3 linked regions of the Homo sapiens genome follow. The protein of the gene in region 2 interacts with the protein of the main gene of each other region in a biochemical or structural test. Each region holds a gene or a part of one and is shown on either strand. Other genes may lie near its edges. The genes, in order: SLC9A1, MAP3K14 and ZFP91.

Region 1 (7,798 bases), on a different chromosome or scaffold from region 2:
GAGACGGATGGCGCCAGCTTCCAGGAGTGGGGAGATGCCCAGGCCCAGGAGACCCTTGCCTGCCCCTCCCTGCCTGCCCACCAGGCCTGCCACCTACTTGTCCTTCCAGTGGTGGTGACCGTAGTGGCCACAGATGTCTTCGATGCCTGTCAGAAGGTGGTCCAGGAACTGAAAGGGGCCCAGGGCCAAGTCAAGCCTCGCTGTGGGGCGCCTTCCCTACCAAGACCTCTGACTAGCCCCACTCCCTCCCGTAGCTGCAGCCCTGCTGGGTCCAGCCCTGTGGTTCCATGAGCAGCCAGGAGGTGGCGCCCACACTCCACTCATCGAACCCAGCGGCCCTGACTCTGGGTATCTCGAAGCCTTGCCTGTGTCCGGCTGAGCCCCCTTCTCTAATCCCACCTGGGACCTATGCCTGGGATAGGTTTCAAATGGAGGCAGAGATGGCATGATGCCCCCTCCTCAGGCTCCCAGCTGCTCACACCACACCTTCCTATGGCTAGACCCTGGCGGCCTCCTGGGGCAGAGGGAGCCCCTGGGCACTGGCACAGGGAGAAGGGGCTGATGGGGGGCAGAGACTTGAGGCCCAGCTGCTCCCTATCTCCCTGTTCCTCCTTCTGCAACCAAGGGCCCAGCCCGCACTCCAGTACCTGTGTGTGGATCTCTTCGTTGATGGAGCGCTTCGTCTCTTGCTTTTTCTTCACAGCCAACAGGTCTACCAGGGGCCGAATGGTCATGCCCTGGGGGGCAGGCAGGTGTCAGGCACTCCAGTTCTGCTACCCAGGCAGGGAGGCCACAGAGCCTCCCTCCCTCACCCCAGGCCCCCAAGGCTAGGATGCCCTCTCTGCTCTGCTCTCTCCCAGGACCCAAGGGTGTGAGAACTCTCCCACCTCCCAGCACTTATCTAAAGACAGGTCCTTAAGGCCTGCTTCTTCCTGGAGACACGGTCAGAGGTTTCACTGCCAAATGACCCCCACACTGGTCATCTGGCCTGGGCCAGGCAGCAGACAGCCTGGGTTCAGATGTGGACTGCACCACAGACTTGCTCTGCAACCCCATGGAAGTCAGGCCCCACACACAGGGAAAACTACCTCTGCACTGCCTCCCCACCAGGACTGTGAGGAGGACCGAGTAATAACAGCAGCAGCAGATGGAACTGCACACCTGCCATGTGACCAACACACGTGCTTGGAAGTGTTCTAGCATCAATCAGCTCTCCAATATCCGCAACACTAAGAGGGAGGTCCTTCCATTGTCTCTATTTAACAGATGCAGAAACTGAGGCTCAGAGAGGATAAGCAGCTTTCTAAGATCCCAGAGAAGCAGTAAAGCCATGATTTAAACCCAGGCAGGCTGGCTCTGGAGGGAGGCCCCCTCCCCAATGTTGCCTTCAATGAAAATGGGCTTGGAAAATCATTAGCACATACAACTGCAAAATCAAGGTAAAAAAAATTTTTTGAAGATGGAAGCAGGGCAAGAGGACAAAAGTGGCAGCCTCCTCCTCTTTTTTTTTTTTTTTTTTTTTTTGAGATGGAGTCTTGCTCTGTCACCCAGGCTGGAGTGCAGTGGTGCGATTTCAGCTCACTGCAACCTCCACCTCCCGGGTTCAAGTGATTCTCCTGCCTCAGCCTCCCAAGTAGCTGGGATTACAGGCGGCTGCCACCACGCCCAGCTAATTTTTGTATTTTTAGTAGAAACAGGGTTTCACCATGTTGGCCAGGCTGGTCTGGAACTCCTGACCTCAGGCGATCCGCCTGCCTCGGCCTCCCAAAGTGCTGGGATTACAGGCATGAGCCACCGCGCCCAGCCTCTCTCCTTTTTCTTAACTCGAGAGAGAGTCTCACTCTGTCACACAGGCTGGAGGAGTCACACAGGCTCAATCACAGCTCACAGCTGCCTCAATCTCCTGGGCTCAAGCTATCCTCCCACCTCAGCTTCTCAAGTACCTGGGACTTACAGGTGTGTACCACCATACCCACTAATTTTTTTTTTATTTTTTGTAGAGACAAGGTTGCCATGTTGCCTAGGCTGCTCTTGAACTACTGGGCTCAAGGGATCCTCCTGCCTCGGCCTCCCAAAGTCCTGGGATCATAGGCGTGAGCCACTGCACCAGGGTCCCCTCTCCCTTTAAAGGACAGAAAATAAGCCCAGCCCCAGGTTTCCCCTATTTTTTTTTCTCAAGAGAATGCAAAGATGTATCCCATCTAGGGCTTTTTGAGTATCAGTGCCCAGAAAAGACAGAAAGGATGGTAAAGAAATGGAGGCTCAGACAGAGTGTTTCTTATTTGCCCAAGGTCAGGCAAAGTCAGGTAAGGCAGAGCAATTTGCACCATCACAGGCTGGGCTTCCTTGGGGACCTTAGGCAGGAGAGTGGCTGTCAGCTAAGCCTGAGCCGTTTAAATGTACAGAAATCACTGAGCAGCAGGCTGGAAGGATTCTTGGGAATCATCTCGCCTGGTTCCCTCACTTTACAGATGGGAACTGAGACCCAGAGAAGAGTGGGGGTCTTTCTTAGGGTCAGAGGGACACCAACACAGAGCTAGGGCTGACTCCAGGCCTCCTGCTGCCTGGCTCATAGCCCTTTCCAGTTCCCCATGCTGTGATATTATTCCCATTTTACAGATGCAGAAACTGAGACCCTAAGATATGAAATCTCTTGCCTAAAGCCCTACAATGAGTTAGTAGCAAAGAGAGATCTTGGGCCTGTTGACTGTACCCACTTCTCTCTCTTTTTCTTTTTTTTTGAGATGGAATTTCACTCTTGTTACCCAGGCTGGAGTGCAATGGCGCAATCTCAGCTCACTGCAACCTCCACCTCCTGGGTTCAAGTGATTCTCCTGCCTCAGCCTCCCAAGTAGCTGGAATTACAGGTATGCATCACCATGCCCACTAATTTTGTATTTTTAGTAGAGACGGGGTTTCACCATGTTAGTCAGGCTGGTCTCAAACTCCTGACCTCAGGTGATCCACCCCCTCAGCCTCCCAAAGTGCTGGGATTACAGGCGTTGAGTCACCGTGCCCGGCCAGTACCCACTTCTCTTAATGCTCTATGAGTTCCAAATTAAGTTGGGCAGCATTCTGGTTCCTTTACATTCTGATCAGTCACTCTGCAATGACTCATCACAATTCTCACTTTACGATTGAAGAAACTGAGGCCCAGAAAGGGGGAGTGGCTCGCCCAAGGTCACACAGCAAGTTAGTGGTGGAGCTGGGACTAGAATCGCATTTCAAATCACACGCTTTCCTCTCTTTCCACGGGAACAGCCTGTGAGGGTCCCCAAGGCAAGGGCCTGCCCTGCCCTGGCCCAGCACCTGCACAAAGACGGTGAAGAAGATGACAGTGATGATGGCAGTGAGGAACAGGTCACACATGGGGAAGTGCTTCTTGTCCAGGAGGTAGCCCAGAGAGAAGGCGATGGCCCCTCGCAGGCCCCCATAGGCGATGATGAACTGGTCCTTGGGGGTCAGCTTCACGATACGGAACTTGTTGATGAACCAGGTCAGGCCCAGCACCCCTGCAGGGGAAGGCAGGGGGTGATGAGGGTCAGGTCGGGCTGTCCCCAGTCCCTCCTGGATTCTGCATCAGTGATTTCTCTGTGCATCCAGGAAGTCTCCATTACGAAGCCCACCCCGCTCACTCAATTCCTGGGTCCCTCAGCCCAGAGTGCTCTGAACTCCTCAATCCAAGAGCTGGGTGGATCCTTAAAGGACTTCCCCAACCTGGATGTGCTTTAGAGACATCATGGAGGCCTCCAGTGGCTGGAGGGCTGGGGGCAGGAAGAGGGAGAAAAGATCAAACAAGATGGGTCACAGGTCAATACTTGTTAAATGTGATGGGTGTGTGGGGGGTCATGATCCTATTCTCTCTACTTTTCTAAGTACTTGAAATTTTCCATAATAAAGCATAAAAAATGCAGAGGGCTGGGCCCAACCTCCACCCACAGAACCAGAATCCCTGGAGGATGAGGCTCAGGAATAAAGGGGATTTCAAAAGTGCACCAAATAAATGTGAGGTCCTGCCAGGCTTGGGGACATGGACCTAACCCTCAGAGAGGAAGTGAGAGATCCAGGGAGGAGGCGACTGAGGCACTGGGGTGAGGCATGTGGGGCACATGTGAGTGGAACCCATGCACCTGGGGCCTGGTCCCCACGTGTGCCCCGGCCTGCTGCATAGGTTTGGAGGACTGCACGTGGCTCTGCATGCGATTCGGCACATGCTCACGTCACCTGTCTTGAGACAGTGCAGAGAGCACTCAGCTCAGAGTCACAGACCTGGGTTCTGTGGGCCTCAGGCCCCTCATCAGGACAGCCACAGCCACAGGCTCAGAGTCTCAGGGCCCCCTCACTTTGACACAGCCTGACTCTGTCCCCAGAGACCACAGCCTTGCTGTGACACAGGCTTCTCCCTGCTGAAGGGCCCATCATGGAAATGGGAAGTCCCTCCTGTCTAGCTGTGCTGGGAGCAGGCAGGAGCCAACCAGGAAACCTCCACCACAAACTGCATCACACATATACCCCCAGCCCCTCCACACACACACACACACACCCAGGCCCTCTACACACACACACCCACACCCTCACAGCCCCTCCACACACACCCACACCCTCACAGCCCCTCCACACACACACACACACACCCAGCCCCTCTACACACACCCAACCCCTACACACACACCCAGCCCTTCCACATATACACCCAGCCCCTCCACACAACTATACACACACTGCACCACAGCCCAATCCCTCCACACAACACACACATATATACAAAGCCCTCCACACAACATACTACACACACACACCCCCAACCCCTCCACACACTACACACACACCATACACACATCCAGCCCCCCTACAATGCACTACACACACCACACACGCAATACGCATACACACACACACCACAGCCCAGCCCCTCCACACAATACTTATACACTGCACCACATGCACACACCACATAGCCTGGCCCTTCCACATAGTGCACTGCACACACCACACACACAGCACCACAGCCCACCACCCCCCACACACACCCCACACCACAACCCCCACCCCGCCCCAGCCCTGGCCCTCACCCAGCACGCGGGCGATGAGGCAGAAGAGCAGGGTGCTGATGACGAAGGTCCAGTTCCAGTGGTGGGAGCCGGCCACCGTGGAGACGCCGAGGAAGATGAAGATGAGGGTCTCGCTGACGCTGCTCCACATCTTCAGGAAGTATTTGATGGTGGTGTGGGACTTGTGGGAGATGTTGGCCTCCACATAGGGGCGCATCACCACTCCTGAGGCTATGAGCCTGGAGCAGGAAAGAGCGGGGTCAGGGCTCCGTGTCGAGCTGCACCTGCTCGAGCCCCTCCACTGCCAGGGGCAATGGGGCCACGACCAAGGTGCCCATGTCCCAAGCTCCTCTATGGGCCAGGGGCCCGCTGTGTGCTTTACACCCTCTTGCCACTCATCCTCACATCAACCCTATAGACACGGTGTATTCCTCCATTTTTTTTTTTTTTTTTTTTTTTGAGACGAGTCTCACTCTGTCACCCAGGCTGGAGAGCAGTGGCGCGATCTTGGCTCACTGCAACCTCCGCCTCCCGGGTTCAAGCAATTCTCTGCCTCAGCCTCCCGAGTGGCTGGGAATACAGGTGCCCGCCACCACGCCTGGCTAATTTTTTTGTATTTTTAGTAGAGACGGGGTTTCACCATCTTGGCCAGGCTGGTCTTGAACTCCTGACCTTGTAATCCACCCGCCTTGGCCTCCCAAAGTGCTGGGATTACAGGCGACGAGCGCATGCCCGGCCCTATTCCTCCATTTTTAAAATGAGTGATCTTGGCTGGGCACGGTGGCTCACGCCTGTAATCCCAGCACTTTGGGAGGCCGACAAAGGCGGATCACTTGAGGCCAGGTATTCGAGACCAGCTTGGCCAATGTAGTGAAATGCAGTCTCTTCTAAAAATACAAAAATTAGCCAGGTGTGGTGGTGGGCACCTGTAATCCCACCTAATTGAGAGGTTGAAGTGGGAGAATCTCGAACTCAGAGGCTGCAATGAGCTGAGATCGTGCCACTGCATTCCAGCCTGGGTGACAAGAGTGGGACCCCGTCTCAAATAAAAAAATGAGAGATCTGACTCTAAGAGAAATAGTCACCTCTCCCCTGTCACGCTGCCTGCAGGCAGCAAAGCCAAGACACACAAACCACAGTGTCCAACTCCAAAGCCTGCACCTTTGCCCCAAGGCCACACTGCCTCTTGACCCAATAGGAGTCAATGACACAGACCCATGGTCTCCTGGGTTCATTCCCCTCAAGCGTGGCATCTGCCATTACACAGGGGTCTCCACAGGGAGCTTTGTTCCAAGCAGCTGCTTGGAGCTCGGAGTCCTCCCAGCCCAGTGCTCACACCCGGGCTCTGCTCCTGGGAGCCAGGGGCTCTGAACCCCAGTTCTGCCTTGCTCGGCACTGGAACACCTTCACCCCTCACTGCCTCCCCACATCCCATTCTCCCCATTTCCAGACCCGGTGGAGACCTCAGGACCGCCAGGACTCAGGCCTGGTGAGCCTCCTACTGGGGCTGCTGAGGGGACTCCCTTTGAGACAATGAAGTAGCAGGGCTGTGGCTTTCCTCAACCTGAAGCTTAGTGGCTTCCAAGGCTCTGCTCTCCTATACCCTGGGCTTGCCTTCATGCAGGTCATTCTTGCTTCATCTGCTCATAGCCTGAAATGCCCTCTCCCGATTCCTGGACCCCAGGGGGCGCTGCAGAAGTGCTCCTCTTCTAGGAAGCCACTGATGCCCTTGGCCATTTAAATGGCTACCAAGCAGGTCTGGAGCCTGGAGTTCATGTCTCATCCCTGGAGCTCAAGGCTGGGCCCTGGGAGCTCCGTGAACCTACGAGCCTGGGGAATCCAAGCTGGCAGCCCCCGCCCCCACCCCGCCAAGCCCACTGCCTGCTGCACGCAGACTCACGCCATGATGCCTGACAGGTGGAAGAGCTCGGCTGACAAGTAGGCCATGTAGCTGTAGAGGAAGACGAAGAGCGGCTCGATGACCCGGATGTGGGAGGTAAATCGGGAGGTGAAGGCTGCGATGACCCCGTAGACCACGCCCACAAGCACCCCGCCCAGGGCCACCACGAAGAAGCTCAGGAAGCCGAGGAAGATGTCCACGATGCCCACGTGTTCGTAGTTGGCAAACTCCTCAAAGAGGTGATACAGGACCTGGGGAGGGTGTGCAGGCTGGTGGGTGGGAGGAGAGGGCCCTGGCCCCACGGTTCCCTGGGGTCCACCCAGGGCAATCCTGTCCCCTCCGTTAACCATGGCCACAAGAAGAGGCCACACGGTAGCAGAGAAACCCTAGTGCCAAGCAGGTGCTCAAAACCTCAGCCTGGGGCTGAGGGGCTTGCTCTGGGCCAGCCACGTGCCCCACTGGTGAAGGGTGGGCCCTGGGAAGCTCTGTGAAGACCCTGAAGCCAAACTGCCTGGACTGGAATCCTGGCTCTGCCACTCCTGAGTTGTGTACAGGAAGCAAATTCATCTCCCTGTGTTTCAGTTTTCCTGTCTATAAAATGAGGATAATAATACCAAATCTTAGGACTGCTGTGAGGACTAAATCAGCGAATCAAGTGCTCGGAGCCTTACCTGATGCAGTGTTAGCCACATCTGGTGCTATCAAGTCTGCCTCTCACTGCCTGACCTTGGGCACGTCATGCCCATCACTGGGTTTCAGTCCCTCCTTCAGCACAAAAAAGGGACGTTCACACAATGAACTAGAATGTCATTTCTTAACCTCTGGAGCTTTCTGAAAATACACATGT
Region 2 (11,405 bases):
CTCAAGTAGCTGGGACTAAAGAAACACACGTCACCATTCCAGGCTTCTTGTGAGATTTAAAGGGGAATCTGCAAGTCCTTGACTGCAGATCGTGGGCCCCCAGACAGAGTCTCAGAGAGAAGCTGACAAAGACATCTTTACGAGGGGGAAAGGGTGGTGAGCTGGGGATGCCATGTGGTAGTGGGAACCTCATCCCACAGAACCAAATGTTCCCTCCTGTTCCCCCAAAGAACAAGTCCTTGCTGATCTACATGCCATACAGTATTTTCCCTTTCCTCACCTCCAGGATTAATGCAGGAACCTACTTGATCACGTGTGGGACACAGGAAGCCCCTAGACAGGCCTAGCTGTGTCTCCAGCTCAGAGTTAGGATTGTCAACTGGGCAGAGCCTGGACCTTTGTAGCCTCATTTGGAGTATGGTGAGGGCAGTATATAGTGTAAGACAGGGAGAACCCGAGAGCTGAAGCTTTTAGACTGAAGGACTGTCCCCCTAAAGGTCCTACTGAGAAAATGACTCTGGCCTGTCAGGCAGTCTGACCCTTCTTGACATCATCTTACAGAAAACAGGTTTAGTCACAATGCAGTAATTGGCAACTACTACTGCTACTATTACTACTACTACTACTACTACTATTACTACCACCACCAAACACCACCAACAAGAACAACAACAACAACAACAACAGTTACAGCCTCTATGTTCTGTGCTGGGCACTGGGCTCAGCACTTTACATATCTCCTCTCATTTTCTACTCAAAACAGCCCCATGAAGTATTTCTGATCCCATTCACAGATGAGGCACCTGATGATTAGAGAAGTGAAGTGATTTGCTTGCGGGCACACAGGCAGGCCGTGGCAGACCTCGACCTGACCCAGGTCTCTCTGACCTGACAGCCTCAGCCACCACATGTGACACGGAGACACCAAGGACTTGTTCTGTTGCTCTGGACAAATCACGGGCTCTCTGCCTTTGTTTCTACATCTGGAAAATGGGCACAAGCACACCTGTCCAGGCAGCAGGCTATTCATCTTTTGGCCTTTTATTAATTAAAAATCAATATCAATTAATAATTGATTGGTACAATAAATAAATAAAGCTGCTACCCTGGTTTCGTTATGTTCAAAATTGACATGTTTGGGGGAAGAAAATCCTTATCGTTTCATGAGCAAGGTAGTAGAAAAAGCAGTGACCTAGATATCAAGAAAAGGGGGTTTAGATTCTGAGCAATCCTGTCTGTTTCTCCTTATGAGGCTTCACTTTTCTGATCTTTGTCCCTGCCCTTCTTCACATGAGTATGGTGTGAAAATACAAAGACTGGCCATAAAATTATTCTTGATGCCACATAATTTCAAGGGATTTCTATCAGGGAGCTGAGGGATTAAGACATGTAGAAAAGCAAGAAGGGAAGAGGCTCCTTTAAACTAGAATACAAAGAGCACACCGGCCACTGAAGAAAAATGACTTTTTCTGCATTGTCATTCAGGCAGTCATAAGCCCAGAACAAAAAAATCTCATACTTCAATGTCCTGCTCAGCTCAACAGAAATGCTCCCCTACAATTTGCCCTACGTCTGGCCTTCCCTTTTTGGGCTACTACTTTCAGCATTTTAGCCAGCATCACCGAGTAAATGCAAAACCTTCACACATGCATCACTTTGAATGCCCACCCAGCTCTTGCAGATGCTCAGCCCCATTCTGTTCCCTTACTAGGGAATCCTGGTGTGTGGAGACCAGAGGGGCTGACATCCTTAGAGCTCCCTAAATCCACTGACATGGAATTGTCCCCGGCCCACCAATTTCACACTGGTGCCATCAATAGTGCCCATAATGCTCAGATGTTTCCAGTTTAACTGAAATACTAAAATGGGGCAAACAGGAAGCATCAGACACAACTGTGGTAGTGACTTATTAATCACGAAAGCAGAATTTTAGTTGCATTTTAACCTTTTGCCAGGAAAAAAAAAAAAACAACCTTGAGATGATGGAAGCCATTAGTAGAAGTACGCTGCCTTTATGCGTATTGGGCTGACTTAGACTTTTTACTTAGGACTGACTTTGCTTTTAAGATTTCTGAACTTTCCCCCCAGAAAGAACATCTGTCAAACCAACCAATATGAATCTGTCAGCTCTTCATCGAGGCAGGCAGGCTTGTTAGGAAAGCCCATGTGCTGTCCATTGAGACAGGAAAAAAAATAGGAAGTTAAAAGTGCCTTCACAGGCCAAAGTGATACAACACTGTTCAGAGGGTGCCAACAACGAAGAAAACAACCCTGGATAAAGCTTTCATCTCTTTCACATCTCCGCAGATCTCTCACCAGACCCTAGCCAGGGATGAACTGTTATCAATCACCAAAAAAAAAAAAAAAATCACAACAGTTGCCGAGGGCTGGACAACCAATCAGCGCAAGCCATCTTCTCAGCAGTAAATGATATACACATATTCCAGGCAGATCACAAAGGAGTCAGTGTTCAACAGGAGAACCAAAATGAGGAACCAAACCTTCATCTGTTGAGGCGAAACAGCCCAACCAGACATTTTTGTTTAATAGAGGGAGACTGATTTGGCAGGGTCTCTGTGGTGCCGCTCCCACAAACTCTTAACAGACAATACCAATGACAAAAAACCCCCTTCAGAACTGCTTCTTATAATCAGAAAACACTCAGAAGATGGCCTGAAGCTTGGCAGCGTCTTGCTGTCTGATTTCACAAAGAGCTGGTACACATACCTGGGTACTTATCTCTAAAATTAGAGTCAGAGACGATTACTTTTATTTTGAGATCTTCTGAGAAGTTCTCCACACCCTTCAAAATAAATAAGGATGTCCGAAAGGTGTCTGAAAAATTCAGAGGTCTGGCATCGCTCCAAAGAAACTGATTGATATCACTTAAAAAACACCAAGAGTAAATCCAAACACAACCAAAGTAAGGCAAGCACTTTTTAAGTGTCCTCTCACATTAAGAGCATAAAAACCACACCAAAAACTTCTCCCTCCTTTCTGCATCTCAGTTCTATAATGTGGTCCTGATCTAGGATTCTGGGAAAGACCCATCCTTAGTCCCAGCTATGAGGCATCAGGCAAGATATATACCACCCCCACTCCCTCATACACACCTGCCTCAGGTGCCTCGCCCATAAAACAAGACACTACAATCTGTCTTACCACACAGCCATCTGAAGGAAAACGGAGCTCACAGGTATGAAGACACTAAGCAAAAAACACATCACTAATGTTAAGATACTGTCTCCTTCTAATCTTTCAGAAAGACCATGTTTCTAGTCAAGGGGTTTCCAACATTTTTCTTGGAATAAACTCCAGACTCCTATTTTATATCATGACCTCACTCTAATCATTTAATTTCATGTGCTTTTAAAGTCCTTAATTAAGTCATTGGTGTTCATTGTCTCCAGCGATCAAAAGTAGTTTTACCATTTACTTTGCTGATGTATGTACCTTTTCACCACTTATCCTCTCCCTCATTCATACCTCCAGTCCACCCTTTAGGGCCGAGAGCAACTTTTTAACCTCGACTAGGAAGGAAACACTTTTTCTGAAGCTACCCAGCACTAAGGAGGCTCCCGGGCAGGTGGGAAACGTACGTACAAGTGGCCCCTCTCTGCCTGGTGCCCAGTGGCTGCAAGATGCCAGGGCCACGATGGGTTTCCAAGATGGGAATGTTATATTTGAACCGACAGATAAAGTCCCGAGTTGGAGAGCCCAGAAGAATTACAGAGGAGGACTGGGGTCCGAGGGCGGAGGGAGGATGCTGCGGGCGGCCAGCACTGCCCCGCTGCATGCTGAGGACAGGCTTAGCTCCTGCTCCCCGCCTTGAGGTGTGACCTGAGAACTTCCCATGAAAGGCCGGGAGGGTTTCACGCCAGGGCAGATGCCAGGGCGCACTCCTGCAGGAGACACGTCCGCCCCGCGGCAGGCGAGCTCCATCCTGGGGGCACTGGGGCGCAGAGCAGGCGGGCGGGCCTGGCGGCGGCGCGGGGCACTAGTGAAGGGGAAGCAGGCGGCCCCTGCGCGCGCTCGGAGCCAGCGTGTGGCCAGCAGGAGTGCGCGGCCTGGAGGCCCGGGGCGAGCGCGGCACCGGCAGCGCGTGCGAGGGCGCGCCCGCGGACCGCTGCGAGTGGGTTGGACGGGGTACGTCGGACTGCGCTGGCCTGGCCGCCGACCCCACTGCTCCGGGGCGAGGGGCCAGGCCGCAGCCCAGCCCGGGGCTGAGAGGCGATCCATCCCAGCCGCTCCCTGGTCGCCTCGCACCGGGCCCCAGGGTCCCGCCCCGTCACCTACCGGCCAAGCGCCGATCTCCCCAACCAAGCGAGTGTTGCGCTCCGCTCGCCCGCGATCTCCCGCCGCCGGCCGCCGACCGCTGAGCTCCCGGCCCGTGGTCGCCCCGCCCCGGTCCCGGGCTCCGCCCCCTCGCCTTCTCGGCCGCCCCCGGGGCCACGCCTCCCCCGGAGGCTGTAACTTTGCCTCGCTTCGCGCCTCCTTTCTTTGGCCGCACCGCGACCCGTGGCCCCGCCCACTCCCCTACGCCAACCAATGAGACGGTCGTCCCGGCAAGCCCGTCTTCCCGCTCCCTAGCAACGATTGGTTAACGAGGCCTGGTTTCCAGAAATGGGCACTATTTCCGGACGATGTTTGTAGAAGGGAGATCGCTGGGCGGGCGGACTGACAGAAGGCGGAGGCGACTAGGGTGTTGGTGGAACCACACATGCGCCCTCGGCTTCTGGCAGTCTTACCAGCTGCGTTCTCGAGGTTACGGGAAGGAAGGGCGAGTGTGCGCATGCGTGGGCACTCCCTGCCACTGACTTCGGTTACCTTGGAGACAGCGAGGCGCTCTCCCTCGTGGGTCGCGCGCGTTCCGCTTCCTCTCTGCTGCCAAGCGGTGGCGGCTGAGGCGGGAGGTGGTGGGGGTAGAGACGTTTTTATTGAGCTCTTACCGTGTGCCTGGTCCTGTAGAATCCCTGGAATGAGTAAAGAAGGTTACAGTGCCTGCCCTCGAGAAGCTTGGGGAGCCAAGGGCTTACAGGGGCCCGACCTGTGGGTTGAAACCCAGGTACAAAGAGAGCATGTGGGTGCGTGGCGTGGTACGAGCGCTGAGCAAAGCATCTGCTCTCTGGGTTTGCAGACCACAGAGCCAGCAAGAGGATGAGAGCTTGATGTATGCAAAGAAAGGACCTGGAGTTCAGAATATGCATTGAAGTGTCAACAGTGCTTCTTTCTGAATGGGGGTCGGGGGTGGGGAGTAGGGAAGGTATAGAAACTTTTTCTAACTTTTGCCCCTCTGTATTATCTAGTGTTTCCACACTGAGCTTGTATTTTATTTGTAATAAATTCCAGGCCAGGCACGGTGGCTCACTCCTGTAATCCCAGCGCTTTTGGGAGGCAAAGGCAGGAGGATCGCTTGAGGCCAGGAGTTGGAGAACATCCTGGGCAATATAGCAAGGACCTCGTCCTTGCAAAAAAATAAAAGAATAGCCAGGCGTGGTAGTTTGCACTTGCAGTCCCAGCTAGAGGGGAGGCTGAGAGTCTGAGGTTACAGTGAGCCATGATCGTGCCACTGCACTCCAGCCTGGGTAACAGAGTGAGGCAGTCCTTTAAAAAAAAAATCCAAACTTTTTTTTTTATTGCAAAATAAAAGATGTACTCCTACCCTGGGCATCCCACTTCCATGAAGGGTCCATGGTAGGTGTGGTGAGTGGCTCTAGTCCGGGGATAGGCAGGCCCCACCCAAGGCTGTCTTGAAAAGTAAGGAACACCCCATCTCTGGAAGTGTTTGAGCAAAGACCACCATCTGCTTGAGACTACTTTGCAGACAGTCCGAAGCTGAACTCTTCTTTCTGGATATCTGTGCCAAACAGTCATCTCTGCTGGGGAATAGGGAAGACCATTTATTTAGGCAGTGGTCAAAAACTCACAACCTGAGGGCCTCATTCACTCACCCAGGCCAGAAATATGCTTTGTTTGGCTGGCCCAATATTTTTTTAAATTTGAATTTGAATGCCTTAGAGCAGAGCCTGCGGTTCCTTACAGTTCCCGCCACCCAACCATCTAACCTTATGTCACCTGTCTGGCCCCTGGAGCATTTGAGGTTGTGGCTCCCGTAGAGTCCGTGCTTTAGAGCCAAACAGTCTCTGGCGCCCACCCTGGCTCTGCCACTGACTAGCTGGGAGATGGCAGACAAGAAAGAAGCTGGACTGGTGGCCCCCAAATCTCTTTCCACCCCTAGGGTTTTGCATTTCAGTGACTCAGGGAAAGGCAGAGCTTGGCCAGATGTACAGGTTGGTATCGGCAATCTTGGATGCCCTTATTGCCTCTCCCACCACCTGTTTGCCTCTGGGCACACCACTTCTCAGGAAAGATGTGGGCACACCTCCAGAGTCTGCAGACACTCCCTGGCTTGCCTTTGCCTTCTCTCTCTTTCACTATTCCTTCTTTAAAACACCCAGTGTCTCTGTACTTTGCCCAGGTTCCCTTGACACCTCTGGTCCTGGGTCCCCTGTACACTCCCACCTACCCCATCAAGATGATCTGTCTTTAAGTCCGTCCCTGAACATTAATGTGTATTAATCAGAGACAGTGAACTGTGTTGACTCAAAACTGTAACTCTGGAGAAGGAATGTCACATCAGGTTGCAGGGGAGGAGCAAACCACTAAACACTGGTAAGGAAGATATTCGGGATAAGCAAGGCCTCTCCGTTTCAGCTACTTTTCTGAGGTCTTTCCAAGCCCCACTGTGTGTGGGTGAGGTGAGAAACAATACACCTACCCAGAGTGAGCAGTGTGGTGTCTCTGAGTCTTGAAATGCTTGCACCCTCTGGAAGGAGAGCTTCGGGACGAGATTACTTCCTCCAAGCTTAAGTCAAGACAACCTGGGAAAGCTTCTGGCCTTGAGTCACTTGTGCAGCCTCAGCTCTGCTTTAAATACAAGAAATTGACATTTACAGGATGACTCACACCTGGAGCAGTGAACTAGGTTCTCAGTACTCAAGGGTTCTCACACCCCATCCATTTCAGGTCTGGAAATAGCGTTAAGACTGTGCTATTCCGAAAGAATCGCAGCTTGTTTTCTGATACTTTACAAAAAGTAAGCCAGATAGACTTAGAGTACTTCATGTGCATAACCTCACTGAATGTTCCCTCTAGGCCAGGGTTTCTCAGCCTGGCACTATAGACATTTGGGGTTGGATAATTCATTGTTGGGGGACGGGGCTTGTATTCGCCTGTTTTCACGCTGCTGATAAAGACATAGCTGAGATGGGGTAATTTATAAAGGAAAGAGGTGTAATGGAGTCACAGTTCCATGTGGCTGGGGAGGCCTCACAATCATGGCAGAAGGCAAAAGGCATGTCTTACATGACAGCAGACAAGAGAGAATGATGAGAGCCAAGTGAAGGGGAAACCCTTACAAAAACATCAGATTTCATGAGACTTACGCACTACCATGAGAACAGTATGGGAGAAACTGCTCCAGTGATTCAATTATCTCCCACTGGGTCCCTTGCACAACACGGAATTGTGGGAGCTACAAGATGAGATTTTTTTTTTTTTTTTTTTTTTTTGAGATGGAGTCTCCCTGTGTCACCCAGGCTGGAGTGCAGTGGCGCGACCTCAGCTCACTGCATCCTCCTCCTCTTGGGTTCAAGTGATTCTCGTGCCTCAGCCTCCTGAGTAGCTGGGACTATAGGTGTGCACCACCATGCCCGGCTAATTTTTATATTTTTAGTAGAGATGGGGTTTTGCTACGTCAGCCAGGCAGGTCTTGAACTCAAGTGATCCACCCACCTCAACCTCCCAAAGTGCTGGAATTATAGGCATGAGCCACTGCGCCTGGCCTCAATGTGAGATTTGGGTGGGGCCACAGCCAAACCACATCAGGGCTGTCTTGTGCATTGCAGGATGTTTAAAAGCTTTCCTGGCCTCTGTCTACTACATACCTATAGCACTCCCTCATCCACCCAATGTGACAATAAATGTCTCTGGACATTGCTAGATGTCACCAAGGAAGCAAAATTGCCCCCGGTTGAAAACCCCTACAGTCTGACCCCATTGAATAGGTAGTATTACTGTCCCCATTTCACTGATGAGCAAACTGAAGCTCAGACAGAAGTAACTTTCCCAGTGTCACTTTGCTGTAACAGGAGACCCAGGATTCAAACCATGTCTGACTTCAGAGCCCCTGCCCTCCTGCATGCCGGACTCTGCAGAGAGACTTCAGGGTTCAGGGAGCCAATTGCCCATCAGTTCTCTAGGACAGTGCTGAAGAGTGAGTAAATCAGTGAAGGAATGCTATCCTTGGATCATTTTTCCTTTTCTGTTTGCCTTGGAAGAAAGGAAATTATATTCTGGTTTTTATTGCCTTAGTCAGCATGGTTTATGGTGCTGAGCCATGTCCAGTGAGAAAGTGGCTGATGAGTCATCTGAATGTGGATTTCAGGCCCCAAATTACTGTGAGATTCTGAAGTTACACTTGAGAATTCAGATGTGAGGCTGAGATAAGAGATGACTGGGGACTGTAGGGTGGATGTTCCTGGAGGAGAGCAGTTTTCCTTTCCCTGTCGGGACTGCCTGAAGTTGCAGCCACAGTGCTGTTGCTGCCCTCCCCAGCTTGGACCTGCCCTACTGCTGCTGTTAGCTGAGGTCTATGGAGAGGCCAGGGAGGCAGGAGGGGAAATGGATAAATGGATGCAGGCAAAGTGTGATCCATTCTCTCTAGCTATTTTGTGATCAGTGATCTCATATTGGTAGCTTGAAATTGGACATGTTGGGAGTATTTATACCATGGAAGTTGGCAAACAGTATAAATCAGGGCTACCCATCCTGAGTTGGTTGTTAAACACCTGCTGGCACACCACTGTGTGCTGGTTCTGGCCTGTGCCTGCTGCCCACCAAACCAACCCCACATAGGGAGATGGCAGGGGGCACCACAAACCACAGAGCTGCTGTAGAAGAGGAGGGGCCATGGCGATGTGGGTGAGGGGGAGAGGAGTGCCAATTTCAGCAAAGAATGGAGGTGAGGGCTGGTAGGGGACTCTGGAGGGTACTGGGCAAAGATGACCTTACAAGAACAGGTCCTGGGCACACCTTCCAGAGATCTAGCCTCCTCTCCCAACTTTGGAGCCTTCTTAGGGTGCCCTGGCTTGACACAAATTCTTCTCATTTCCTGATTTGGAGATTTTCCCCTCCAGACTCACCTGCTTACCTCTAGTCTCCTCTCCACACTATCCTCAAGCCTTCTGGTGAATTGAATCTTCCTAAGAGATCGCATAGGTCCTGTCATTCCACTCCCAATGTCCCAGCATCTCCTGCCCTTCGATATCTCCCTCCTTTCGCTTCTTCCTTTCAACCTACAAATGAGGTCAAGCCGAGGACACCCTAAAAACAACAAACAAACAAAACCTTGCTAGTTCTGGCTTTCCCCTGCACTGTTAGCCCAGCCTTCTTTCCCCCTTCACTCCCAAACTTCTTGAAAGTCTGCTTCATCTCCCACCCAAGTGGGCTCCTTACAGCCTGGTTTCTGCTCACCAGCCCTTCTCTCCATGAACTGCCTCCTAGTAGATGACCTTGTCTCAGTTTCTTATCTGCAGCCAGCCACAAATGTGATGCACTGAGCTCCTCTGTGTCAGGCTCTGGGTAGGAAGCATGGAACCTCCAGACCAGTCCCTGCCCTTAGGGAGCTTCCTTGAACAGGTAGCAACAGATGAGGACTTAAGCCACTGCAAGTGTGGCAAGAAGATGGGGAGACTGTATCATGTCAGGTAGGATCCAGCCAGGAAAACAGGACCCATTTTGAGGGTTTTTTTTTTTTTAATTTTGATAGAGGTAGGGGTCTCCCTGTGTTGCCCAGGCTGATCTTGATCTCCTGGCCTCAAACGATTCTCCCGCCTTGGCCTCCCAAAGCACTGGGATTACAGGCATGAGCCTCTAAGCCCAGCCTCATTCTGAATTTTTATTTTTATTTTATTTATTTATTTATTTTTGAGATGAAGTCTCACTCTGTCACCCACGCTGGAGTGCAGTGGCATGATCTTGACTCACTGCAACCTCCACCTCCCGGGTTCAAGCAATTCTCCTGTCTCAGCCTCCTGAGTAGCTGGGATTACAGGCGCCTGCCACCACACTCGGCTAATTCTTTTGTATTTTTAGTAGAGACGGGGTTTCACCATGTTGGCCAGGCTGGTCTTGAACTCTTGACCTCAGGTGATCCACCCGCCTCGGCCTCCCGAAGTGCTGGGATTATAGGTGTGAGCCACCTCGCCTGGCCTCTGAGTTTTTAAACAGAATAAACATAGAATTGAATGCAGGAAATTGGTTACATAGGGGATGAAAGGATGGAGAAGTTCTTCAGACAATGGGGGAAGTAACCAGGAATCCAGCTGCGACCCCTGGGTTGGAGGGACTGGACTGGGGCAGTGTAATCAAAGGCTGGGACTGGGGTCACTTGGAAGAAGTTGAAACCATAGAGAAGACACAACCACTTCCACAGATACCACTAAGACTGAGAGGGATGGGGAGAAATCCCTGCATTCTCCTTCCCTTCTACCTTTGGGTTTCCTGCCAGAGCCTCTTACTGGCCTGGGAGCCTAGAGGGGTCAGTCACTTGCAATGCAGAGCAGAGCAGGTGAGGGCTGGATGGGGGAGCACACAGCCCGGGACCAGCGCAGGGATTCCTTCTACCCTCCACATCTATCGTTACCATGTCCATCTCCCCTGTTGAGGCCAGGCCTCATGACTCATTCATCTCTCTCCGGCACCAGGGCCTAGTCAAGTGCCTGGCACCAAATAGGTGCTCAACTACTGTTTGTTGAATGATTCAATACAGCCAGTAGTGGATGAGGACTCCAAGGGAGAGAGTGTAGAGAAATGAGGGGCTTAGGCCTGAAACTTGGAGGGTCTCAATTGTTAAGAATTGGAGAGGGAGGCCAGGTGCAGTGGCTCATGCCTGTAATCCCAACACTTTGGGAGGCCAAGGCGGGCAGATCACTTGAGGTCAGGAGTTTGGGATCAGCCTGGCCAACATGGAGAAACCCCGTCTCTACTAAAAATACAAAAATTAGCCAGGCGTGGTGGCTGACGTGTGTAATCCCAGCTACTCAGGAGGCTGAGGCAGGAGAATCGCTTGACCTGGGAGGTGGAGGTTGAGGCTGCAGAGGTTGGGAGCCGCAGGAGAAGAGAGGATTCTGGAAGAAGAAGAGGAGCGCCAGCTTTGGACATAGTGTATCTGGGCTGCCCTGGCTCTCTCAATTGTCCTCTCTTTGCTGTTGACTGCCAGATTAACACCTTCAGTTCTGACCGTGATCCTGGGCTCCAAACCAGAGTTTCCAGGGGCCCATAGAGTATTTCCACCTTCTAGCCATCTGGCATCTCCAGCTTTGCACTGTTCCCCAAACCTGTTC
Region 3 (8,512 bases), on a different chromosome or scaffold from region 2:
AAATAAGAGATGTGACTCTCAAAGACTAAACCCACTGGGCATTCTCTACTAATGGGATTGTGCACCCCACCCCCACGCCCTGCCTGACTCAGAGGAGGTAGCAAATTCCTGGCTGTGGATTTTTGTGCCTGTGGAATCAAAGGGCCCTTTTTAATCAGATTTTTTTTCCCCTGCAGCGTCTGCCTCCATCTCTCTCCTCCACTCAGTACTTAGCACACTTGTTTCTATGTCATTGTTTTGCTTTTGCACTTAGCAACAAGGTCACTATCATACCAATCCTCATGGCACCCCTGCCTAATGTAATCTATCTCACACACTTAGAATTAGTTCATTTTATTATCATTCTCCCTTATGCTTCCCATGTCTTTTTTCTCATAGGCTGGCGAAATGTTCATTCAATAAAATTGTTATTGACACAGCTGCCATTTATTAAGTATCTACCATGGGTCAGTCAGTAAGCTAAATACTTTAAAGCAATTCCATTTGATCTTCAGAATATTTCTGAGGTAAATGTTATTTCTCCATATAAGAAACTGAAACTTCAAGAAATAACATGCACAAAATCAAGTAACGAGGCTTGAATTTAAATAGAAGTCTGATTCTATAGTTGTCTCTCCCACTGACTTTCCAATTTCATTTTCTGTTTAGGTAGTTCACATCTTGTTCAAGAAACAAAGGGTGTGTGAAGTCCTTTAAAAACAGGATTTTTTTCACTCCTAACCTTACGTACTTTTTAAAGGTAATTTAATTTATACTTAAAAATCAAGCAAGGAAGCATCTCTAATTTCAATCACGGTGCCTTCCTGGTAGCTACATAGGAGGAGGAAGGTACTGTTTAGGCCTGTTCTCTTCCAAAGAACAGGAAACACCCAACGCTAACTTGGTAACATTTCTAAAGCAGTCTCACTCAAGTGACAACATGCTTTCCTTTTTTCTCCCCTACCCAGTCATACCACATGCTTCTTAAAATAAGAGAATGAGCTGGGCTTTGAAATGACAGTATAAAAGTTAAAAGGTACTTGGAGGGTTGTCATTCTATTGCATTTAACTTAGAAAATGATGCTTATTGGGTAAGGGCTAAATGAAATAATTAGCTTTCATTATTTATATCATAGATATTGCCAATAAGCTGAAACACATACCATCTTAGAAGCAAATTTATAAAAGTAAACAATAAATGGGAGATGTAACAGAGCAGCCTGGGCAGCTATCACAGCATGGCTTTTGGAAGGCAGAAGGATTATAGTTTTTTCTTTTTTAAAATAAAAATCAGTACTTGATATAAACATTCAATTTTGAGAAGAAGTATTAATATTAAATGCTATCAAGGTTTTGTCATTATCAGGGTAAAATTAACCTCACATAATCCTTAATTTTCCATCTACTAGGTTAATTAACATATGGCCAGTTTTCCTAGGAGGCAGTTGTCAAAACATCAAGATTTCCAAGTTTGCTGAATAACAGAATCATGTCATTTCAGCATTAGAAATCAAGAACAGTCAAAAATTAACCACCTGATTCTCAACAAAAGCAAACAATAGTATGCCCCACATAACACCTGTTCTGAGGGCATTTGGTTTGCTTAGCAGCATCACATGTTTCACCCCTAGGATAACTGTAACTCAGTACAACCAAGGAAGACAAGTTGCTTCCATGAAGACAACTTTTATTTTTCTTCTTTACATATTTATTTTTAATATGCCTTACCTAGAATAAGAGAAAACAAAGATTTGAAAAGCAAAGTATCCCTTTTATTATAATTTCTTTTTACATAACCTTTTCAACCTATATTCAGGTAACTACCTGTCTCTCCCATGAAAGGAGAAGGGTCCTGCACATTACAACAGGCAAAAAAGGCTTTTAAGAAATAAAATATTTTAAATTGATCCATTACATTTGTTCAATTTTCTTGAGTACATTGGAAAGTGGGAAAAACACAAAAGGAGAAAAAAATGGTATTTCAAACAACCAGACTATAATAATCTTAGTTAGATTGGTAGTACACTCATTATACTTTTTCCCCAAACAGGTACAAAGGAGGTTCAAGTGCTCTATGTGGATGCTAGTCTATACCTCGATATTTTTATTTTACTCCCAGTACTCCCACGGCCATGGCCAGTGTTTGCCTAAATTCTCTGAAGCATATCAAGGAGTCTCAGTTACGCAAAACAACCTTGGGCAACCACAAAGAAGAGGGATGCACATCTCCCAGAAATATTAAATAGCTGTATCTCAACTACAGTTTCAGAATTTAGAACCACCAATTCAAGATGGAAATATGCAGTGGGAAGAGTTATTAAAAAGGTAACAGAATTTGACTAAGAGCATGAAATGTAGAACTTTAAGATTAAAAGAGCTCCCTGGAAGGACAATGAGGCATATGGAGCAGAAGGGAAAGCAGGGAAACGGCTGAGATAGTTTAATTACACCAACTCTACTATGCAGCATCCCTTTATCAAAAGGAAAAATATAAAGTCTATAAAAAATATTTTAGTATTGCAAACTGCTGCAATAATTTATTGTAGGCAAATGGTAGCTATAAAGAGGGTCCTTGACCCCTAAAAGAAAAGAAAAAGTACAGCAAGTTTCTAATTAGTAGAACTAACTAGTTGTTTTTTTGTTGGGAGAGCGGTATAGGAAAGGAGAATACATTTTCTCCCATCTCAGAAAGATTTTTAAAAATGCAGTTTGCTTTTGTGTAGGTGGCTAAAATATCTGATGACTAACCACTGCAAATGAAATTTACGGAGACAAAGGATAAGTGTGACAAAAAAGCTAAGTGTGGAATATAGATGCTAGTTAGTCAAAAAGTGTAAAAGGGACCTGAGAGGAGGACAACTTTTTTGTAGATTCATCTAATCAATCTTGTATTTTCAAATCTAGTCAATATACCAAAGTCGACTCCAAACCATGTTGGCAGGAAAGCATATTCTACATCCCTTCTATCTTTATTCCATTTTCTATCCCCATATTATGGAGAAATGGCAAATCTGCAACACTCTGAAAAGAAACAATAGCGCATTTGAGACTGGTGATTGTAGGTGTCTCACTCTCTGTTCCCTGGCATCCCAAATGCTGACACTAGTTGGTATAAAGTAAGCCTCTTTCAGAAATGACATTTTGTTACTCCTCTTTTTGGGAAAAAAGAATTCTTTGAAAAAATTGATAAGCCATGTTTGTGAAACACAAACTGTTCTTTTTTTTTTTTCCAGCAAAACGTCATTCTTTCCAAGAGCCATCATGCATTTCTGACAATAAACAATGAATAGGGTAAGCCTTCGATTCTAGCTTCTGAGGCACACAGGATAGGAATTACTCTTTACCTGAAGATGAGCCAAAATAGGATTTGGGGCTTCTGGCGGTATGACCTTGTACAAAAACACTACCTTTTCTCTCCAGTGAACAGCAATAAGCAATCTATTCCCCAACACAACCTCTATCCCAAGGAAATTGTGATGCCCAGAATTTTAGGTGAAAGCCAAAGCAATTATTATATAGGATTATTAACTTTGGCTATTGAAGTTTTTCCTCTTCAGAAGTGTTACTAAAGGGGAAACAGAGCAGTTTTCTTTGACTTAAAATTTTAGGACTCATAGACTTTGTTCCTTCACTAACAGCAGTGTCCTTCACTAACAGGGAGCTGGAATGAACTGATAAAGCAAAGCAAGAAACAAAAAGCAAGGAGCCAGAGATGGGCCCCAAGGGAAATGTAAGGAAATGGTAGGGACAAAAAAAAAGGAAAAGAAACAAATTCACAAGAAACAATCATCTATCTGTAATTTAGATTCTGAACAACCCTCCTCACCCTCTCAAAATTCTTAAGTTTCAACACTGTAAAAATCTCAAAGAGCATACTAGTTACCATGAACCTAACATTCTTCCCTAAAAAGGCTTCCAAAAAAGCACTAGGCTATTGTAGTGATTTTGTTAGTGCTGAGGACCAGCTTTCTTTAAAAGCCACTGGAGAGCTATGATTTCAGAGGCTGGCTGTGCTTCTTCAACCCTATGTCTTGCCTTCAAAGTACCTGTTATGGAAGGGATCCCATGTCAAAATAATCTAATCTCTCTCTCCCAGCCCCACAAAATATAGCAACAAAGACTCCAAAAAAAAAAAATCAGACTTCCTGTTAATAAATAAGGAATCTCAGGTTCCACAACACAAAAACACACATGTTCAAAGTGCAAATTTCTGCCATTAGCCTGGGACTTTTCTCATCGTCTCACTGATACAGAGCCCTGTCTTACAGTCAAAGAGACTGTAGAGGGCAGCCCCCTCCCTATTGGGAGCCTGCTTCCAAGCAAGTGAGCACCATTGAGAGCCATATGGAGGGTTGGGAGGGGGACTGAGATGCTGGGATCAAAGAAGGGGGAGGTGGTCCCCATATATCCTTCCTTTCTGAAACCCAGGGGGGAATAAAGGAAGAGGGGATGAGAGATGTGTGCTGTTTTAACAGCTCACCCTGCTAAGGGGCCCTAAAGTGCCAAGTCAAGCTGCCAGCCTCCAGAGATTAGAATTCTATGGTATTTGAAGATAAGTGTGCCGCAGGGGGTAGGAGCCAGAACCATAGGGCAGCAGTAGAGGAGGAGAAGGGATTTAGAAGACAGTAATATATGATTAAAAGTTAAAAGCTGATCCAGAGCACATCAGAGTTACAGGTTGGAAAGGGGGATCTGCCGATGAGCAGGAAGTCTGCTGATGGCTGGAACCGAGTATGAGAATAACCCTCACTTTAAGAGCTGCTGCTGCTTCTTTTTTGTCTACCTTTCTGGTAAAGACAACATCAATTTTATAAGGGGAGCAACAGAGGGAGAACAGGGGATGGGGAGGTGGAGGGTGTATGTATGTGTGTGCTGTGATCCACAATGGAAAGAGCAGGCCCTTCAGTTATTTCACTAGATTTTAAATGCTTTAGATTTTTTTTTTGTCCTTTTTAACTTTTAAATACAAAGTCTGAGCTGTCCCATGCCCCAAGTCTTCCTGTCCACTAAGGTCCGGCAGAGTCTGAATCTTCAATCAGAACCTCTGTGGTAGCACCGAGTATATCTGAGTTCATAACCAGCCCTTCAGTGCCTCCACTGCTGCCGCTTCCCACAAAGATCTTCCCATCAGCCATCAGGCTCACCCGTTCCGTCCCACTGCAGTATGACTTTGACATCCCTTCAGCTTCTAACAGTAGGCACTCTCCAGAGGTTGAGTTTCCCAAGGGCTCAGGAAGAAGAGGAAGACCCTGACCATCTGAAGGCTGCGTCAGGGACTCTGGGTTAGTGCCCAAGATATCTGTGCTGGTGATGAGGGCGCCTGCATTGGCAGCCAGAGCTTCTGCAATCAGCACCTCAGGGTGGCTTTTTGCCTTGTGTGCCACTACGCTGTCCTTCTTCTCAAATTTTTTGCCACAGATATTGCAAGAAAACTGGTAGAAGGAGTCTGCATCATGTTTCTTCATGTGCCAATTAAGAGATGCCTTTTGTCGACAAGTAAATCCACAGATCTCACATCTAAGGAGAGGAGAAAAGGAAATGGCTGATCCAACAGAGAAATAAAGAGTGCTCTTATTCAGGATCAGGGTTAGAGTTTAGAGCATATATATACATACACACACACACACACACACACACACACAATAATCAGTAACATACTTCTTTTGAAGGATTGGGAAATGTTACTAGATGGAAAACTAATCTGATCTTCTTCTGTTTGCCTGAAAAACAGAGGGAAACTAAGAAAAAGGCTACTAACTAATGCCCCCAATCAATATCCACTCATTTATTTGATGAAAGTAAACAGCAGTGGCAACTAATATGTTTGTAAAGCGGCAAACCTTCAAGTAGGGCATATATCCTTCTCACCCAGATGTTCACCAGTAAATAATACTCACTGTAATGGCTTCTCGCCAGTGTGAATCATCCGGTGCACTGCCAGATTGTGGGAACTCTTGAAGGCCCGAGCACAATATTCACAGATATAATCCCTTTGATCTATGAAGAAAATACTGTGGTTAGTGTTCTATTTAGATACCCTGTAAATATTTTCCCTTACAGTAAGTAAGCAGATGATGGGGCAGGCAATTTAGAGTAAAAGCAATGCTGTTTTCAATGTATAAACACTTTGGGTAAACAAAATTTAAAAAAGAAAAGTATTGCTTTAAAAAAAATCCAACATTCAGTAGCATAAGGACCTGTTTAAAAAAAAACAAAAACAAACAGAAAAACTAGATAAAAATATAAGAAATGGAATCCTAATCTCAATTTTACCACTAATCCAGGTCTTGGATACCAAGTGGTTAGCAAGTAAACAACTATATTTTCCATATATTTTACTCCTTTAAGGAGTAAACAATTTTTTTCACAGACAATGAAAACTGAATGATTACACAGAAAGAATCTGGCATTCAAACAAAACAAAAACAAAAAACAAGAACTTGGCACTGTATAGAAGAAAACTGATCTAAAGGTAATCATACCCTGTTTCAGGTTTAAAAAATGTTACTCAAGATAAACTTTTCTCAAAAGACTGGAGTTGCTGCTATCAAATATATGTAAATAACACCTGTACTACTTTACCTTATTCTCCTACCCATCTTCTGCACCTTTCAACTACCTCCCTTTGTCACTCACAACACCCTCAACCCCATTATGCAGGATTTCTGATGAATGTGGTAACACGGTGTGGAATCTATGAGGAGGAAAAAGGAGCATTGTACTTATTCATTTCTTTACCGTGTTTGGGAAGCCCGTGCACAAAGAGATGCTCTCTATATATATTTGTTGAATTAATGACCACTACATTTTCTACTCCTTTTGCTTCAAATTACCAGAATTAATGAGAATGAAAACATGAATTTAAGTTAAAAGGTGAACAATATCCAATTTAATCTTATACTCCTTTCCAAACAGCTTAGAGATCACCTGGATAGCTTATTAAATGTATATGCTGATTCAGCAGGTCTGAAGCAGGGCCTGAGATTCTGTATCTCTAATAAGAACCCAAATGATGTCAATGCTGGTTGGTCTGTATTCCATACTTTATATAGCAAGGTCTAAAAACGCACAGTTCTAACTTAGGAAACTCTTAGCATCTCCCAGGTCATGTCCACATTTCCAGTTCCATAGCAGGACAAACCTGTGTGGGGCATCTATTTGCTAAATAAATGACATTTGCAAAAAAAAGTCTGTATATACTAATTTGCAAAAGTAAAACATCATAAATTGTATTAACCAAATATAAATATTTGAAATGGACTGAATTTATAAAAGTTTTTCATACGCTTTTGATATTTAACTAAAACAATCTAAAGTGGCTGTCAGAAACAACTTTTCTATGGCATAAAACAGTATTAACAGGGAGCAGAAGGAACAGAGAAATTGCAGTACCTATCAAGAAACAGAAATAACTGTTACTTGTGGAAATAACTCTGAAGAAACATGGTATAAGAAAACTGTAGACTTTGGAGTGATTAAGATTCAAGTTCAATCCTGGTATTGTGCCAGGCTCTGTGTAGTCAATAGCATTTTATGTTATCTCATTTCATCCCTACAATAACTGATATTGGTATCCTTAATACACAGAGAAGGAAAAGTGAAAAGAGAAGTTAAGTAACTTTCCTACAGTAAATGAAGGAGTTATTTCATTTATCAGTATGACCTTGGGCAGGAGACATATTTCTACAACTAGAATTCCTAGACTTACTCTCTAAGACTGTTGAGAAGGTAATGTGTAATTATCAAGTGTCTGGGACATACTCAGTGGTATGCACCCAATTTGTTCCTATTAGGTACACTGCACTGAGATGGTCAGTGGTTACAAATAAATTGAATTTGAGTCTATTCTATAATACATATTGCAGACACTCAGCAACTCTTTTTGACAGTTCCTATGGGAGTTTACATGCAAATTCAACAGCTAGACTTCACAGTTTCAATAGCAGCAGAGTATTATGCTTCTCCTAAAAACTAGCTATGTGACCATGGGCAGGTTACTTAATCCTGCCAAGCTTCTAGTTTCTTAGCTGTAAAATAAGATCAATATAAACAAATTTAGTGGTGTTGAATAGACTAATTAGCAATAATATACATAACGTATTTAGTCCACAGTTGATACAGAATAAATGCTCAATAGAAGATCATTATCCCGGTCATAGAAGTTCAAGAAGTCAAAGGATAAAAATTCAAAAGTCCTAGTCTGCCCATCCCTTGTAAAATTTGTCTTACTACATTTTATTTTCACACCTTTTCCCCGCACTTGACTATAGAATCTTTTAAGACTTATGTTAGAAAAACGTTATCATTACCAACATGCAAAACTAAAGCACAGTGCAATTACCTACTTGATAAACACATTTTAAAAGTACCTGTATGATGTTTGGCATGTCGCAGAAGTTGCTTCTGAAGCCTGAAGAGTCGTCCACAGGAGGGATGGGGACATACATATTTCTTCTTCAGCAAATGCTGGTATTTAATGTGGTGCTAAAACAGAGAAAGTGAAAGGGGCGAAAAAAAAAAAATTAAGGCTTCC

What was found.
Region 1: the proteins of MAP3K14 (region 2) and SLC9A1 form a complex in vitro, tested with the Homo sapiens proteins (one study listed by BioGRID).
Region 3: the proteins of MAP3K14 (region 2) and ZFP91 form a complex in vitro, tested with the Homo sapiens proteins (one study listed by BioGRID).

The regions. Positions count from the first base shown.
Region 1 is NC_000001.11:27,102,576-27,110,373, forward strand, and holds part of SLC9A1 (sodium/hydrogen exchanger 1), read right to left. Parts: intron 7,203-7,798; coding exon 6,952-7,202; intron 5,291-6,951; coding exon 5,073-5,290; intron 3,513-5,072; coding exon 3,310-3,512; intron 738-3,309; coding exon 648-737; intron 169-647; coding exon 98-168; intron 1-97. UniProt on the Homo sapiens protein: Electroneutral Na(+) /H(+) antiporter that extrudes Na(+) in exchange for external protons driven by the inward sodium ion chemical gradient, protecting cells from acidification that occurs from metabolism.
Region 2 is NC_000017.11:45,312,664-45,324,068, forward strand, and holds the start of MAP3K14 (mitogen-activated protein kinase kinase kinase 14), read right to left. Parts: upstream 4,358-11,405; 5' UTR 4,297-4,357; intron 1-4,296.
Region 3 is NC_000011.10:58,614,180-58,622,691, reverse strand, and holds the end of ZFP91 (E3 ubiquitin-protein ligase ZFP91), read right to left. Parts: intron 8,464-8,512; coding exon 8,349-8,463; intron 5,977-8,348; coding exon 5,877-5,976; intron 5,497-5,876; coding exon 4,986-5,496; 3' UTR 1,142-4,985; downstream 1-1,141. UniProt on the Homo sapiens protein: Atypical E3 ubiquitin-protein ligase that mediates 'Lys-63'-linked ubiquitination of MAP3K14/NIK, leading to stabilize and activate MAP3K14/NIK. It thereby acts as an activator of the non-canonical NF-kappa-B2/NFKB2 pathway.